Homo sapiens: one gene and its partner. The protein of the gene in region 1 purifies or fractionates together with the protein of each later gene. This does not show direct contact. Each region holds a gene or a part of one and is shown in the gene's direction. Other genes may lie near its edges.

Region 1 (8,680 bases):
ACTTCTGTATTCATACATATGTGTGTTTGTAAATACTTTTATAATTTTTTTAATGTTCTTTCCATTAAATACAGTATTCATGGTGGAGAGGTTGGAGGGGGGACCACTTTCCCAGTAATCAGTGACACATGCCAGAGTTAGAAAGAGAAACCTCTACCTACAGTACTGTAAAAAGATACCATACTGCACTGTATAGAATCTCTGTACTTGAGAGAAACTTAAAGTGGTTTTTTGTTTAGTTTTGGTTATACTGTTTTAACCTTTTTATTAGGACAGTGAAGGTCTGACTTGGTTCAGATTCAAGAAAACTCTAGGCCGGGCGTGGTGGCTCACGCCTGTAATCCCAGCACTTCGGGAGGCTGAGGCAGATGGATCACGGGGTCAAGAGATCGAGACCATCCTGGCCAACATGGTGAAACCCCGTCTCTACTAAAAATACAAAAATTAGCCGGGCGTGGTGGCACACGCCTATAGTCCCAGCTACTCGGGAGGCTGAGGCAGAAGAATTAATCTCTTGAACCCGGGAGGCAGAGGTTGCAGTGAGCCAAGATTGCGCCACTGCACTCCAAACTGGCGGCAGAGTGAGACTCTGTCTCAAAAAAAAAAAAAAAAAAAGTTTTTGGCTTCAAATTCATTGTATAAGAGAAGCCCAGTGCTTTACAAAAGGATTCTTTGGCCAACGGTAGTGACTCACACCTGTAATCCCAAAATTTTGGGAGGCTGAAGAGGGAAGATCACTTGAGCCCAGGAGTTTGAGAGCAGCCTGGGCAACAGAGGGAGACCCCATCTCTAAAAAAAATAATAATAATAGAAAAATAGCCAGGTGTGGTGGCATGCACCTGTGGTCCCAGCTACTCAGGAGCCCTAGGTTGGAGGACTGCTTTAGCCCAGGAGGTAAAGGGTATGGTGAGCCTTGATCATGCCACTGCATTCCAGCCTGGGAAACAGAGTGACACCCTATCTTAAAAAAAAAAAAAAAAACTGAAAGGATTTTTTAAGGTTACAAAGGCTTCTGGCTGGGTGCAGTGGCTCACACCTGTAATCTCAGCACTTTGGGAGGCCAAGGGGGTGGATTGCTTGAGCTCAGGAGTTCAAGACCAGCCTGGGTAACATGGCAAGATTCCCATCTCTATTAAAACAACAACAAAAAGTTACATAGACTTTTTTTTTTTTTTTCCCTTTGAGGCAGGGTCTCGCTCTGTTGCCCAGGCTGGAGTGCGGTGGCACGATCTTGGCTCACTGCAACCTCTGCCTCCTGGGTTCAAGTGATTCTCCTGCCTCAGCCTCCCAAGTAGCTGGGACTACAGACGCATGCCACCACACCCGGCTAATTTTTGTAGTTTTTAGTAGAGACAAGGTTTTGCCATATTGGCCAAGCTTGTCTCGAACTCCTGGCCTCAAATGATCCACCCGCCTCAGCCTCCCAAAGTGCTGGGATTATAGGCATGAGCCACCACACCCAGCTTGCATAGGCTTCTTTAAATTACTACTTAGCTTCATGGATGGATTTAAAATACAATAACTCATATAATTGAAAATTATATTAGAATATTTTAGACTGACCTCCCACATAAAACAGAAATGCCTTCTGAGGCTTTTGTGATAGTTATTCAGCCTTTAATTGTCTCTACCTCCACTGACCACTTTGTCACTACCTCTTGTGGGAGTTATTATTCCCAAACTGTGTCATTGAAAAGGAAGCCTCTCTTCTATAAATCAACCCTTCAAGTATTTTAAGAATCTTTCCAGGTCACCTTTCTCCAGACTAAATACACCCAGTTTCTTAACTTTCTCTTGGGTGATGTGTGTTCCAGGTATGCCAAATCTCTATTATATAGTTTTATATTGCCTCTATGTCTTCTAAACTGAAACGTTTTCCATTCAGTTTTGGCTATTATATAGAAGTCTAAAATGTCTTTTAATGTTAGATTTTCTGCCGAGGAACTGAGAGGAATTTGGATCTTTCCTGGAGTGAACTGAAGAAAGAAGTTACTTTAGCTGTTGAAAATGAGGTGAGGCTTGGGTAGAGAAAGAATAAGAATTCCTTCCATCTTGATATAGGGCAGATTGGTACTGACCGAGGAATTACTGGAATTCTTCACTTGACCTTGTTTGTTGGAACATATAAATGTTTAAACCTTTTAACTAGAGAATCAGATACACATTTGCATAGTCTATGGCCTTTAATACGTAAGGAATATTCATTTGGCTGTAGCTTAGTATAATGATATTGGACAATTATGTTTTTTGTGGACAAAGATCCTGAATGGCATCAAAAGTTTAATTTCTTTCATTTCTTCTTTGCCAGCTTCAAGGAAGTGTAACAGAGTATGAATTCTCCCAGGAGGAGTTTCGAAATTTACAACAAGAATTCTGGTGCAAGTTCTATGCCTGTTGTCTTCAGTATCAAGAAGCCCTCTCTCACCCTCTTGCCCTACATTTGAATCCACACACAAACATGGTGTGCCTGCTGAAAAAAGTAAGTGAGCTAAAGCATAGAGAAGACCTTCTTGAGACAGTTCAGTGGCTGTTATAACAAAATGCCTTCAGAAAACAAAAAGTTCAGTGGCTCTTGCCGAATGTTAGTCTGGTGAATGTTGCGGTTAGCATTTAGGACTTTGCATTTGTATTTTTTCCCCTAAAATTGTGATTCATTCATTTAAATAGTTTTCTGTGTTATTCTCTATACTTTTTTTGTATTTTATTGTATTTATTTCTTTTTCTTTTTTTCTCTTTTTTTGAGTTGGAGTCTTGCTCTGTCACCCAGGCTGGAGTGCAGTGGTGTGATCTCAGCTCACTGCAACCTCCGCCTCTGGGATTCAAGCAATTCTCCTGAGTACCTGGGACTACAGGTGTACACCATCACACCCGGCTAATTTTTGTATTTTTAGTAGAGGTGGGGTTTCATCATATTGGTCAGGTGGGTCTTGAACTCCTGTCCTTAGGTGATTCACCCGCCTCAGCCTCCCAAAGTGTTGGGATTACAGGCGTGGGCCACCACACCCGGCCTATTTACTTTTTATATTGAAGTAATTTCCAACTTAAGGTAAGAGTTACAAGAATAGCACAAAGAATTCCTGTATACCCTTCATCTGGATTCATCATTTGTTAACTTCCATATGCTTTTCTTCTTTCTCTAAACAGTTTTTCCTGAACTACTGAGAAGTTAGTTGTAGATATCATGCTCCTTTATCCTTAAATATCCTTAAATATTTCAGCATGTATCTAAGAACACAGATATTAAATAACCACAGCCCAATTTAAAAATCAGGTTATTTGATATTGACATAATATTATACAGCTTATATTCAAATTTTGCCAAATATAACATATATATATATATAGTTTATATTCAGATTTTGCCAATTGTGCCCATAATTTTTTTTCCTGATCCAGGATCCAATCTTTTTTTTTTTTTTGAGACAGTCTTGCTCTGTCGCCCAGGCTAGAGTCCAGTGGTGCAATCTCGGCTCACTGCAACCTCCGCCTACTGAGTTCAAGCGATTCTCCTGCCTATCCTCCAGAGTAGCTGGGATTATAGGCACGCGCCACCACACCTGGCTAGTTTTGTATTTTTAATAGAGACGGAGTTTCGCCATGTTGTGACCAGGCTGGTCTCAAATTCCTGGGCTCAGGTGATCCGCCCACCTTGGCCTCCCAAAGTCCAGGATCCAATCTAATATATGTATTTAGTTATTGTGTCTCTTTAGCTTAACCTCAAACTGTTATCAGCGTTTCTTTGTCTTTCATGAGAATGATGTTATTTGAAGACTATGCTTGTTTCTTTTTTTTGTTTGTTTGTTTGTTTGTTTGTTTGAGGCAGGGTCTTGCTGTGTCACCCAGGCTGCAGTACAGTGGCACTCTTTTTTTTTTTTTTTTTTTTTTTTGAGACAGAGTCTCGCTCTGTCACCCAGGCTGGAGTGCAGTGGCACGATCTCAACACACTGCAACCTCTGCCTCCTGGGTTTATGCCATTCTCCTGCCTCAGCCTCACCAGTAGCTGGGACTACAGGCGCCCGCCACCACACCTGGCTAATTTTTTGTATTTTTAGTAGAGACGGGGTTTCACCGTGTTAGCCAGGATGGTCTCGATCCCCTGACCTCGTGATCCACCCACTTCAGCCTCCCAAAGTGCTGGGATTACAGGCGTGAGCCACTGCGCCCGGCCCAGTGGCACTCTTAAGGCTCACTGCAGCTTCAACCTCCCAGGCTCAGGTGATCCTCCCACCCCAGCCTCCCTAGCAGCTAGAATTAAAGCTGTGTGCCACCACACTTGGCTAATTTTTTTTTTTTAGAGATGGGGTTTCATCATGATGCCCAGGCTGGTCTTGAACTCCTTGGCTCAAGTGATCCTCCCACCTCAGCCTCCCAAACTGCTGGGATCACAGATGTGAGCCACTGTGCCCAGCCAAGACTTACACCTATTATTTTATAGAGTGTATTGCAACTTGGGTTTGCCTCATGATAAGATGCACATCTCAATTATTTTATACCTTTAAAATTTTACTGACAAAAATGTAACTGGAAAATTTGTATTTCCAGGGGTACCTGTCTTTCCTTATTCCCTCATCCTTAGTGGATCATTTGTATCTCCTGCCTTATGAGAACCTTTTGACAGAAGATGAGACAACCATATCTGATGGTAATAGTAATTGTTATGTCCATATTTAATCCCCTTCCTATATAAACCCTATGCTTCGTTTCACATGGATACAAAAAATATCGATTGCCACACCTGTCTTGGTCACTTTACCACACCACAAATATTTTAATGAACACTTAAGAGACCAAAGCATCTCTGAGACCTCAGATAGATTTCTTGTCATTTAATTATTAACATTTTAATGTAATATCAATCAATAGATTGTCATTGGCTTAAGACATAAATGTTAACTTTCTCTTATTTGTAGATGTGGACATCGCTCGGGATGTCATATGTCTTATAAAATGCCTCCGGCTGATTGAAGAGTCAGTAACTGTGGATATGTCAGTTATAATGGAAATGAGTTGTTATAACCTACAGTCTCCGGAAAAGGCTGCAGAGCAGATTCTGGAAGATATGATCACTATTGATGTGTAAGGAGAATTAGGGTAAAGTGCATTTCCTAATGGAAATTCAGCATTTTTAGCGCCAAAGTTGGAATTTTAATGTATGTTCCAGAGCGTACAGAATAGTAGCTTAAAGTCAAACTGATGCGCCATGATTCTAAGTACATATTTCTACTTTTAACAGAAAATTTAACACGACTTCAAGTCTAGAAATAGACTTATAAAATATGCTTTAACAATTAACCGAGCTAAAAATTCTAAAAAGCAAAAGTGTTCTTCTCATGTTTGTTTTGTGTGTTGTTTATGAAAAACTGAGAGGAAATTTGCTATGCATAGGGACTGTATCTTATATGCCAGAGTGATTATCTTCATTCCTTTATCTGGTTCTCTTGTTTCATAATGTATTTAGCTTATAGGACATATAGAACTTGCCTTACGTATTCTCGGTAGTAATAAGAGTTTTGTAATTGTCCTTATAGAGAAAATGTGATGGAGGATATTTGTAGTAAACTGCAAGAGATTAGGAACCCAATCCATGCAATTGGACTACTTATACGGGAAATGGATTATGAAACAGAAGTGGAAATGGAAAAGGGATTCAATCCAGGTAAATGACAGAACAACAAATGTGCCTCTTTGATTAAAACAATGATGCATTCAACTCCATTTTTCTTCTTTTTACAGCTCAGCCTTTGAATATTCGAATGAATCTTACCCAGCTCTATGGTAGTAACACAGCAGGGTATATTGTGTGCAGAGGGGTGCATAAAATCGCCAGTACTCGTTTCCTGATCTGCAGAGATCTTTTGATCTTACAGCAGCTGTTAATGAGGCTTGGAGATGCTGTAAGTACTGCTTGAGGGAAAACTTGTAAAATCTAAAACCTGTTATAGGCCTACAAGCACTTAGGAGCAAAATGTCAGCCCTACTAGCACAGATACTTTTGTCTTGGTTCACTGCTTTATTCTCCCAAGCTTGGCCTTATGAGATGCTCTATAAATATTTTTGAATTAAGAATGAATAAGCATTGTAATCCTTGTGAGAGTATAGATTAAGAGCATATATGGAGGGGACGGTGGGGAGGGAGAACATCAGAAAGAATAGCTAATGGATCCTGGGCCTAATACTTAGGTGTTGGGTTGATCTGTGCAGCAAACCATCATGGCACACGTTTACCTACGTAACAAACCTGCACATCCTGCCCATGTACCCTGGAACTTAACAGTAGATTTTAAAAAACATACATGAAGCAGATTGCTTTACTCTTAACCTTTGTATGTGTAGTAGTGGAAAATTTTCCCAAGTTGGCTCTCCCAAAATGTAGTATTATTAGTAACTATGAATGTGGTAAGCATACCCTTTAGTATGGAGGAAGAAAAAGAAAACTCTTTTTTTTTCCTGTCTCTCTCTCTTTTTTTTTTTTTCTTGAGACAATCTTGCTCTGTTGCCCAGGCTGGAGTGTGGTGGCCTTATCTCAGCTCAAGCAATTCTCCTGCCTCAGCCTCCTGAGTAGCTGGGATTACAGGTGCGTGCCACCGTGTCCGGCTAATTTTTGTATTTTTAGTAGAGACAGGGTTTCACCATGTTGACCAGGCTGATCTTAAACTCCTGACATCAGGTGATCCACCTACCTCGGCCTCCCAAAGTGCTGGGATTACAGGCATGAGCCACCTTGCCCAACCTAAGAACTCTCTACAGTGCAAGGCTTACCCTAAACACAGTTTTGAGATGCAGGTTTATCTTTGTGGTCCTCCTAACTCTATTCTGTGCTTTCTTTTTCATTCTGTTCTTCTTAGACCACCAGACTCTTGTTGCTAATATATAGTCCTAATCACCCACCCTACTGAATGTCCCATGCTAAGAAATTATTTTTCTCCCCACAGTCAGACATCCCATTTTTTTCTAAGTCAGTAATCTCATTTGAGCCTGTCAAAGAAGGAATCTAATTAAACCAATTCATATTAATGTGTAAATAGCCAAAAGTCCTTTGGGGCTCCCATTTTAATTCTGACTTAAAATGTATAAATGTACTTATACATTTTAAGTCAGAATGTATTAACTCAGGCTGGGCACAGTGGCTCACACCTGTAATCCCAGCACTTTGCGAGGCTGAGGTGGGCAGATCACTTGAGGCCAGGAGTTCGAGACCAGCCTGGCCAACATGGCCAAACTCCATGTCTATTAAAACAAAAAAGTTAGCGGGGTCTGGTGGCACACTCCTGTAATCCCAGCCATTCAGGAGGCTAAGGCATGAGAATTACTTGAACCCAGGAGGCAGAGTTTGCAGTGAGGCAAGATTGCACCACTGCACTCCAGCGTGTGTGACAGAGCGAGATTCTGTCTCCAAAAAAAAAAAAAAAGAAATTATAAACCCAGATACATCGCTAATGGTAGAATTTCAAGCAAGAGTAAGAAAAAGGCCAGATGTGGTGGCTCATACCTATAGTCCCAGCACTTTGGGAGGCCAAGGTGGCCTGGTTGCTTGAGCCTAGAAGTTTGAGACCAGTCTGGGCAAACCCTCATCTCTACAAAAAAATACAAAAATTAGCCGGGCATGGTGCAGCAAGCCTGTAGTCCTTGCTACTTGGGAGGCTGAGATGGGAGAATTACCTGAGCCTGGGAGGTTGAGGCTGCAGTGAGCTGTGATTGCGCCATTGCACTTCTGCCTGCATGACAGAGTGAGACCCTATCTCAAAAAAAAGAAAAAAAAAATTGGGAAGATAATTTGTTTAAGATCACCAAGTTGAAAAATGAACCTTTCCTGAAAGTCTGTTAGGTTGGTTAGCCTTTACTAAGTTCTTTTTGATCTATGTAGATTCTTCCATTTTTTTCAGGTTTTTTGTTTTTTAAATTATAACTTTTGTCAATTTTTCTGAACACAGAAGTAATAAGATATTCATTGTAGAACCTTTACAAAATATATATAAGCAAAAATTTAAAAAATTTATAATTTTCTACCCAGTGATTACTACTTAAATTTTGCTATATACGTTTTTTTCCATGCACATTCTTTTTGGTTTGTTTGTGAAATTTAAATAAACTACATAGTATTTTTTGTAATCTGGTTGTTCTGTTCTTCCACTTTATAAATCTCAACATTTTTCTTTTTGTTGCCAGTTTTTCCTTTATGTCCATAATTTTCCGCACATCTTTTTTTTTTTTTTTTTTTTTTTTGAGAGTCTTGCTCTGTAGCCCAGGCTGGAGTGCAGTGGTGCAATCTGCAACCTCCGCCTCCTGGGTTCAAGAAATTCTCATATCTCAGCCTCCCAGGTAGCTGGGATTACAGATGCGCACCACTACACCAGCTAATTTTTATATTTTTAATAGAGATGGGGTTTCGCCATATTGGCCAGACTGGTCTCGAACTCCTGGCCTCAAGTGATCTGCCTGCCTCAGCCTCACAAAGTGCTGGGATTACAGGTGTCAACCACCGTGCCTGGCCACTTTCTGTACATCTTTAATTATATCTCTAGAATAAGTTCTAAAAACTAGAATTTGGTCTACAGGTAATGCACATTTTAAGGCTTTTGGTAGTACTGCCAAATTTGCTTATAATAATGGTCATACCTGTTTTTTTACCCAGCACCAGCAGTATATGAGAGAATTTAGATTTCCCTGTGTCTCTTCAATT
Region 2 (8,680 bases), on another chromosome or scaffold:
TGGTGCGATCTTGGCTTGTTGCAGCCTCAACATCCCAGGTTCAAGCCATCCTCCCACCTTAGCCTCTCCAGTAGCTGGGACTACGAGTGCACGCCACCACGCCTGGCCAATTAAAACATTTTTTTTGTAGAGGCAGGGTCTTGCTGCGTTGCCCAGGCTAGTCTCGAACTCCTGAGCTCAAGTGATCCTCTCACCTCAGCCTCCCAGAGTGCTGGGATTACAGGTGTGAGTCACCTTGCCCAGCCCTCTTAGGTCCATTTATTCCAGAGTACTTTTTTTTTAAAGGAGGAGCCATGTATTTATTTGTATATATTTTTAATTGAGCAAGTAATATATTTTTCTTTTTAGAAAGTGAAAAAATTATAGACTTATTGCTAATGTGTTAATATTTATTGATTTCCTCTGTTTTTCCTTTAACGTTTTAAGTTGTCATGGTAGAGTGTGTGTATATACGTATATGTCTTGTCAGAAATAGTGTTGTACTGAAATTTTTCATTAGTTTAGCATTTTATGTATTTTGAATGATTTTCTTAGGCTAATTCTAGAAGATAAATTAGTGGATATTTTAAACACTATTGAAGAGAATTGACAAATTGCTATTTTGCAGGTCGTACCGTTTTATACCGCCAGTGATAGTATTGATTTGATAGTGTTATTGCCCTCGTTACATTTTTAACAGGTGAAATTGGCACCTTCTTATTGTAATCTATATTTTTTCTGGGTAATAAGGTTTAATTTTTTTGTTTTGAGATGGAGTCTTGCCATGTTGCCCAGGCTGGAGTGCAGTGGCTATTCACGGGCGTGATCATAGCCTTAAACTCCTGGGCTCAAGTAATCCCTCCTGCCTCAGCCTCTTGAGTAGCTGGGACTACAGGTGTGCACCACCATGCCTGGTTTCAATATTTTTGCTTTACCATTTGTTACATGTACAGTTGAGCCTGTTGTTTGTAGATTCTGTATTTTTTGAATTTGTCTACTCTGAAATTTACTTGTACCCCAAAAGTCACACTGGTTTTGCAGTCATTTGTGCATGTGTGAGGAGTGGTGAAAAAGTTTGAGTCTCAGGACAGACGTTTCCCATTGAGGTGAAACCAGGCGATACTCTATTTTGGCTCATACTGTAAGCAGGTGTTTTTCATGATTTATTTAGTGCAATGATTATTTGTTCTTTCTGTTGGTGATTTTGCTGTTTAAAATGGCCTCCAAGCGTAGTGACTGTAACTAATTGTCTCTGTTACCTAATAGAGCTCAGCTTCCTGAATCCCTTGGTGCTTGGCCCAGTGCTTGACACATTCAAGGTTCTCAATGTAAATTTTTTGAGACGGAGTCTTGCTTTGTCTCCCAGGCTGGAGTGCAGTGGCGTGATGTCAGCTCACTGCGACCTCCGCCTCTGGGGTTCAAACGATTGTCTTGCCTCAGCCTCCCTAGTAGCTGGGACTATAGGCATGCGGCACCATGCCTGGCTAATTTTTGTATTTTTAGTAGAGACGGGGTTTCACCACGTTGTCTAGGCTGGTCTCGAACTCCTGACCTCAGGTGATCCGTTTGCCTTGGCCTCCCAAAGTGCTGGGATTACAGGCATGAGCCATCGCACCCAGCCTCTCAATAAATACTTAATTGAATGAATGAATGTTTACTTGCTGATTGTGTTCTTTTGTTAACTATATGTTCACCGCTTTCCTTGTACACTGATTCAGTCTTATAGTTTTTGTATCAATTTGTAGGAATTTTTGTATAAAATATCTGCCTTTTATTTTCTTATAGGTCTGGGATAAAAGTGAAAGTGGTGATTGGCATTGTACTGCTAGCTGGAAGGTTAGTATTTATTTTTACATTTATTAAAAATACAGAAATATTTACTGTTTATTTTATAGTTATCTATGAATTGTTTTGAGAAAATAACATTTATACAGTAGTTCTTTTCCTGGGAAGACATTTTACTGTTTTTCGCTATTAAAGTAACAACTGTGTTTCTCAGAATTTGAGAGTAAGAAAATCTGTAATTCTGTAGCATTCTAACATAATTATCTTAGTAATTCAGAATATTCCTTTTGCCTTTACATATTTTAATTGTTGTGATGTTTCATACATAGTTTTCTCTTAAAAAAAAAAAACAAAACCTTTACTCAAGTAGAAATTTTCTTTTTTTTTTTTTTTTGAGACGGAGAGTCTTGCTCTCTTGCCCAGGTGGGAGTGCAGTGGCGTGATCTTGGCTCACTGCAACCTCCGCCTGTTGGGTTCAAGTGATTCTTCTGCCTCAGCCTCCCAAGTAGCTGGGACTGTAGGCGTGCACCACGATGCCCGGCTAATTTTTGTGTTTTTAGCAGAGATGGGGTTTCGCCATGTTGGCCAGGCTGGTCTCAAACTCCTGACCTCAGGTGATCCTCCCTCGGCCTCCCAAAGTGCTGGGTTTATAGGCATGAGCCACTGTGCCCGGCCAAGTAGAAATTTTCATACCTTAAAAGTCATCCATTTTAAATGTACAGTTCAGTGAGTTTTAGTAAACTTACATAGTTGTGTAGTCATCACTGTAATCCAGTTTTAGAACTTTTCTCTCAAACTCAGAAATTCCTTTGTATCCTATTCCCACTCCAAGCCCCAGGCAACCACTGATCCATTTTCTGTCTCCATAGGTTTCTTCTCTCCTCTGCCCTCCCTCTCCCCTCCCCTCCCACCCTCTCTTCTCTTCTTTTCTTTTTTTTTTTTTTTGAGCTGGCGTCTTGCTCTGTCGCCCAGGCTGGAGTGCAGTGGTGCGATGTTGGCTCGTTGCAACCTCTGCCTCCTGGGTTCAAGCGATTCTCCTGCCTCAGCCTCCTGAGTAGCTGGGATTACAGGCGCATGCCACCACACCCGGCTAATTTTTGTAGTTTTGGTAGAGACAGGGTTTCACTATGTTGACCAGGCTGGTCTCGAACTCCTGACCTCAAGTGATCCGCCCGCCTTGGCCTTCCAAAGTGCTGGGATTACAGGCTTGAGCCACCATGCCTGGCCTGGTTTATCCTTTCTAGAAATTTCATAGAAATGGAATTTTGAAATACATAGTCCTTTGTGTCTGGCCACTTTCCCTTTGCATGTTTTGAGGTTCATCCATATTGTGTCATGTGTCAATTTGTTCCTTTGATACTGAGTAGTCCGTTGTATGTATATTGCCACGTTTTGTTTGTCTGTTCACCAGTTGACGGACATTTGAGTTGTTGTTTTTGGCTGTTATGAGTAATGTTAAGAACGTGCCATGTAAGTCTGTGTAGACATATATTTTCATTTCTTTTGGATAGATGCGTAGGAGTGGAATTGATGGGCTATATGCACTTAGCTTTCTAAGAAACTGCGAAACTCTTCCAAAGTGGCTGTGCCCACCAGCCATGTGTGAGGTTCCAGTTTCTCTACATCCTCACCTACACTCGATAATATCTGTCTTTTTTATTATAGCCATTTTAGTAGTTGAGAAGTGACCACAAAAATCATTGGATTTTGATTTGTATTTCCTTAATACCTCATGTTGATTATTTTTTCATATGCTTATTTACCATTCATGTATCTTCTTTTGTGAAAGGTCTATCCAAGGTCCCCCCCCCTTTTAAGGTGAGGTTAACTTATAAAATTAATAATTTCAGAGTAAACAATTAATTGGCATTTACTTCATTTACAGTGTTGTGTAACTACCACCTTTTTCTAGTTCTAAAACATTTTTATTATTCCAAAAGGAAACCCCATCTCTTGCTTTTAAGCCTAATATATTTCATATGTACTTTTCTATATCTTTAAAGGCTTTTTATTAACAGCCAATAAATATACCATTTTGCTTAACTAGTGGATATTTCAGTTTCCATTTTATTGTGATGAGCATCTTTGTGCAAACCTTATTCTTTAGATTGCATTTTACTGTAAATCTAATAAAACTTATCTGCCTTAGTGTGCATTTTTAATTTTATAGCCCTGTATAAGTAAGAATTAAAGATGATACAGAAAAGACTGGACAAAACAAGGTTAAAAAAAAAGGGTGCAAAATGTACCTTTAGTTGGTGACATTGTTACCATGTAGAAGTTATTGGTTAAACTATTTTTATGTTGTTGAATGTAAAAAATGTTAGCTATACAGTGTGAAACACATTTTCTGAATGTTATTTGTTATTATACAGTATTTTCCCTGAGAAGCACCTAGCAAATTCTTTTGATGGTGAAATTCTTTAAGACCTTTGTATCCCTTCTCCAGCCACCTCCCCTCCCACCCCTTGGCCAACAGGAGGGGTGTAAGGATTTGGGCTTCCCCATATTTGCTCTTCCTACAATAGTCTGTTATCGATAGACTGTATTGTCAGTTAAAATCATTTAAGCATTCTATGGCTATAATCTCTATATATTGTTAGACTTTTGAAGCAAATAATTTTTTTTTGGAGACAAGTTCTTGCTCTGTCACCCAGGCTGGAGTGCAGTGGCACAATCTTGGCTTACTGCAGCCTCAACCTTCCAGGCTGAAGTGATCCTCCCACCTCAGCCTCCCAAGCAGCTGGGACCGTAAGTGCATACCACCACACCTGACTAATTTTTTGTATTTTTTGTAGTGATGGCATTTTGCCATATTGCCCAGACTGGTCTTGAACCCCTGGGCTCAAGCAGTCTGCCCACCTCAGCCCCCTAAAGGGCTGAGAAGACAGGCGTGAGCCACTATGCCTGGTTGAATCAAATGAAAAAAAAGTATTTTTTTGATTGAGCTATAATTTACATATCATAATGTGCACCCATTTAAAGTGTACAATTTAGTGATTTTAAGTATATTCATTTAATTGGCAACCACCACCACTTCTAATTTCAGAACATTGTTTACCACCTCTAAAGGAAACCCTGTGCTCATTTAGCAGTCACTTCTTGTTTACTCTGCTCCCAGCCGCTGGTAACCACTAATCTACTTTCTGTCTGTATGGATTTTGGAGCAAATAAATCTAATGTTATTTATTTTATTAGGTGGGTATTTTCTGTAGAAAGAATTTGCAAGTAAAATGGTGGACTTACAGAATCTTTGTTTCAAAGGTTGGTTACGCTAAACTCTGAAGCAACTCTCCAACTATCAGCACTGGAAGTAGTCAAGTTTATCTGGCTAGATTTTTCTTTTATTAGTAAAATGTCAGAAGAACTGGACTTCAGAAGCATTACAATCCTAAATATAGAATGTCTTCTAAAGGTTAAAACATTCTGGAATTTAACTTTTTATTTACATGTTATGTTGATCAGTTTTCTTCTCTCATAGAAGTAAAACTATATTCTGTTTCCTGATGTAAAACCAGTGTTTATGAAATATGAATAAGTATTTAGGAAAAAAGAAGCCCTGGGATAATGAGTATCTGTTCTTTTCTTTTTTTTTTTTGATTCCCCAGACACATAGTGGATCTGTATGGCGTGTGACATGGGCCCATCCTGAATTTGGGCAGGTTTTGGCTTCCTGTTCTTTTGACCGAACAGCTGCTGTATGGGAAGAAATAGTAGGAGAATCAAATGATAAACTGCGAGGACAGAGCCACTGGGTGAGACATTTATTAGTATTCTGGGGACCGGGAAGACATGAGCAGCCAAGGAGCATTCATCCGAAGGCTACCTCAGATAATTGGTAAAATATCACCACTCCCCTCTAGTTTTACCAGTTCTAAAGTTCTTTCTTCCATGTTTTTTTCTTCCTTTTTTATTTCATTTTAACTTGGGTCTGAAGCAATACTTAGGAGCATCACTGCATTGTTTATAACTTTTATGATGAATCCAGAATATTTGCATTGTATTTGATTTTACCTATTAGTATATTTTATGATAGTAATATATGATTTTAAAGTATTCTGGCTCACTGCAGTCTCAAACTCCTGGCCCCACCTCAGCCTCCTGAGTTGCTGAGATTATAGGCATGAGCCACTGTGCCTAACTCTAAAATTCTTTTTTTTTTTTAACTTTAAACTCTTAAGGGTTAATAAAATTCTTTTTTTTTTTTTTAGACGGAGTCTCACTGTGTCACCCAGGCTGGAGTGCAGTGGCACAATCTTGGCTCACTGCAAGCTCCGCCTCCCGGGTTCACGCCATTCTCCTACCTCAGCCTCCTGAGTAGCTGGGACTACAGGCGCCCGCCACCACGCCCATCTAATTTTTTGCATTTTTAGTAGAGACGGGGTTTCACTGTGCTAGCCAGGATGGTCTCGATCTCCTGACCTCGTGATCTGCCTGTCGGCCTCCCAAAGTGCTGGGATTACAGGCGTGAGCCACCACGCCTGGCCAAGGGTTAATAAAATTCTTTAAATTTTATTTAAATTTAAATAAATTTAATGGGCCAAATTCAGGATGGGCCCATGTCACACGCCATACAGATCCACTGTGTGTCTGGGGAATCAAAAAAAAAAAAAGAAAAGAACAGATACTCATTATCCCAGGGCTTCTTTTTTCCTAAATACTTATTCATATTTCATAAACACTGGTTTTACATCAGGAAACAGAATATAGTTTTACTTCTATGAGAGAAGAAAACTGATCAACATAACATGTAAATAAAAAGTTAAATTCCAGAATGTTTTAACCTTTAGAAGACATTCTATATTTAGGATTGTAATGCTTCTGAAGTCCAGTTCTTCTGACATTTTACTAATAAAAGAAAAATCTAGCCAGATAAACTTGACTACTTCCAGTGCTGATAGTTGGAGAGTTGCTTCAGAGTTTAGCGTAACCAACCTTTGAAACAAAGATTCTGTAAGTCCACCATTTTACTTGCAAATTCTTTCTACAGAAAATACCCACCTAATAAAATAAATAACATGGCTAACATGGTGAAACCCTGTCTCTACTAAAAATACAAAAAATTAGCCCGGCATGGTGGTGGGTGCCTGTAAGTCCCAGCTACTCTGGAGGCTGAGGCAGGAGAATGGTGTGAACCCGGGAGGCGGAGCTTGCAGTGAGCCGAGATCACGCCACTGCACTCCAGCCTGGGCGACGGAGCGAGACTTGTCTCAAAAAAAAAAAAAATTCTATAAAAATTGTTTCTTTTGTTTTGTGGTTACTTTTGTTTTCTTAGGAAATATACTGTCCTCGGCCGGGTGCGGTGGCTCACGCCTATAATCCCAGCACTTTAGGAGGCCAAAATGGACAGATCACCTGAGGTCAGGAGTTTGAGACCAGCCTGACCAACATGGAGAAACTCCCCCTCTACTAAAAATACAAAAATTAGCTGAGCATGGTGGCACATGCCTGTAATCCCAGCTACTCAGGAGGCTGAGGCAGGAGAATCGCTTGAACCCGGGAGGCGGAGGTTGTGATGAGCAGAGATCGTGCCATTGCACTCCAGCCTGGGGAACAAGAGCGAGACTTCGTCTCAAAAAAAAAAAAATACACTCTCCTTTATCTACATCTGCTTTTATCGCTGTCTTTGCCTTATTGGATGTTTGAATTTGGGCAAGAACATAATATAATCTGTGTGCTGTTGAAGTTCCTCATCTATAAAGTGAAAACATTGAACTAGATTATATTTAAGACTCTTTCCAGCATTTTCATATGAAGGTATTATCATCTGCATGCTTTTTTTCCCCCTTTATGATTTGTTTTTTGTAATAGATAATCATGCACATGGTGTAAAATTCAAAAGAAACAAAAGGAAGTGTGTAGTGGGAGTGTCCTGCTATTACCCCTCACCTGCCCTCCCTAATGGCATGATACTACGTTAGAGCCAGTCACAGCTCATTGCAGTCTCAACCTCCTGGGCTCAAGTGATCCTCCCACCTTAGCCCCACAAGTAGCTGGGATCACAGGCATGCACCACAGGCTGATTTTTTTATTTTGTAGAGATGGGGTTTCACCATGTTGCCCAGGCTGGTCTTGAACTCCTGGACTGAAGCAATCCTCTCACCTCGGCCTCCCAAAGTGCTGTGATTATAGGCGTGAGCCACTACGAGGGCCATGATGCAATTTTTTATTGTGGTAAAATATGTATAACATAATATTCCTCATTTTAACTTTTTTTTTTTTTTTTTTTTTTTTTTTTTTTTTTTTTGAGACAGAGTCTTGTTCTGTCACCCAGGCTGGAGTGCAGTGGTGGGATCTCGGCTTACTGCATTCTCCGCCTCCGGGGTTCAAGCGATTTTCCTGCCTCAGTCTCCTGAGTAGCTGGGACTACAGGCATGTGCCACCATGCCTGGCTAATTTTTTTGTGTTTTTAGAAGAGACAGGGTTTCACCATGTTGGTCAGGCTGGTCACGAACTCCTGATCTCAAATGATTCTCCTGCCTTGGCCTCCTGAAGTGCTGGGATTACAGGCGTGAGCCACCATGCCTGGCCCATTTTAACTATTTGTAAATGGTATAATTCAGTAGAATTAATTACGTTCACAGTGCTGTGTACCCATCACTGTTATCTGTACTCAAAACTGTTCATCACTGCCAACATAAACTCCATATTTTTAAAGAATGCCTCCCCCTTCCTCCTCCCTCTACCCCCTATTCAACTGTCTGTCTATAAATTTGACTAGGTACTGCATGTAAGTGGAATCACAGTATTTGTCCATTTGCAACTGGCTTATTTCACTAAGTAAAATGTTTTCATGGTCTGTCCATTTTGTAGCATATATTAACTTTATTCCTTTTTATGGCTGAGTAATATTCCATTGTGTGTGTATACCACATTTTGTTTATCCATTCATTTGTAGATGGACCCTTGGGTTGTT

What was found.
Region 2: the proteins of NUP160 (region 1) and SEH1L fractionate together in Homo sapiens (co-fractionation; 3 studies listed by BioGRID and IntAct, with this or other methods). This does not show direct contact.

Annotation. Positions count from the first base shown.
Region 1 is NC_000011.10:47,809,278-47,817,957, reverse strand, and holds part of NUP160 (nuclear pore complex protein Nup160), read left to right. Parts: intron 1-1,928; coding exon 1,929-2,012; intron 2,013-2,308; coding exon 2,309-2,479; intron 2,480-4,542; coding exon 4,543-4,642; intron 4,643-4,910; coding exon 4,911-5,076; exon of another isoform or gene 5,077-5,091; intron 5,092-5,528; coding exon 5,529-5,656; intron 5,657-5,733; coding exon 5,734-5,894; intron 5,895-8,680. UniProt on the Homo sapiens protein: Functions as a component of the nuclear pore complex (NPC). Involved in poly(A)+ RNA transport.
Region 2 is NC_000018.10:12,950,091-12,958,770, forward strand, and holds part of SEH1L (nucleoporin SEH1), read left to right. Parts: intron 1-1,764; coding exon 1,765-1,815; intron 1,816-5,372; coding exon 5,373-5,519; intron 5,520-8,680. UniProt on the Homo sapiens protein: Component of the Nup107-160 subcomplex of the nuclear pore complex (NPC). The Nup107-160 subcomplex is required for the assembly of a functional NPC.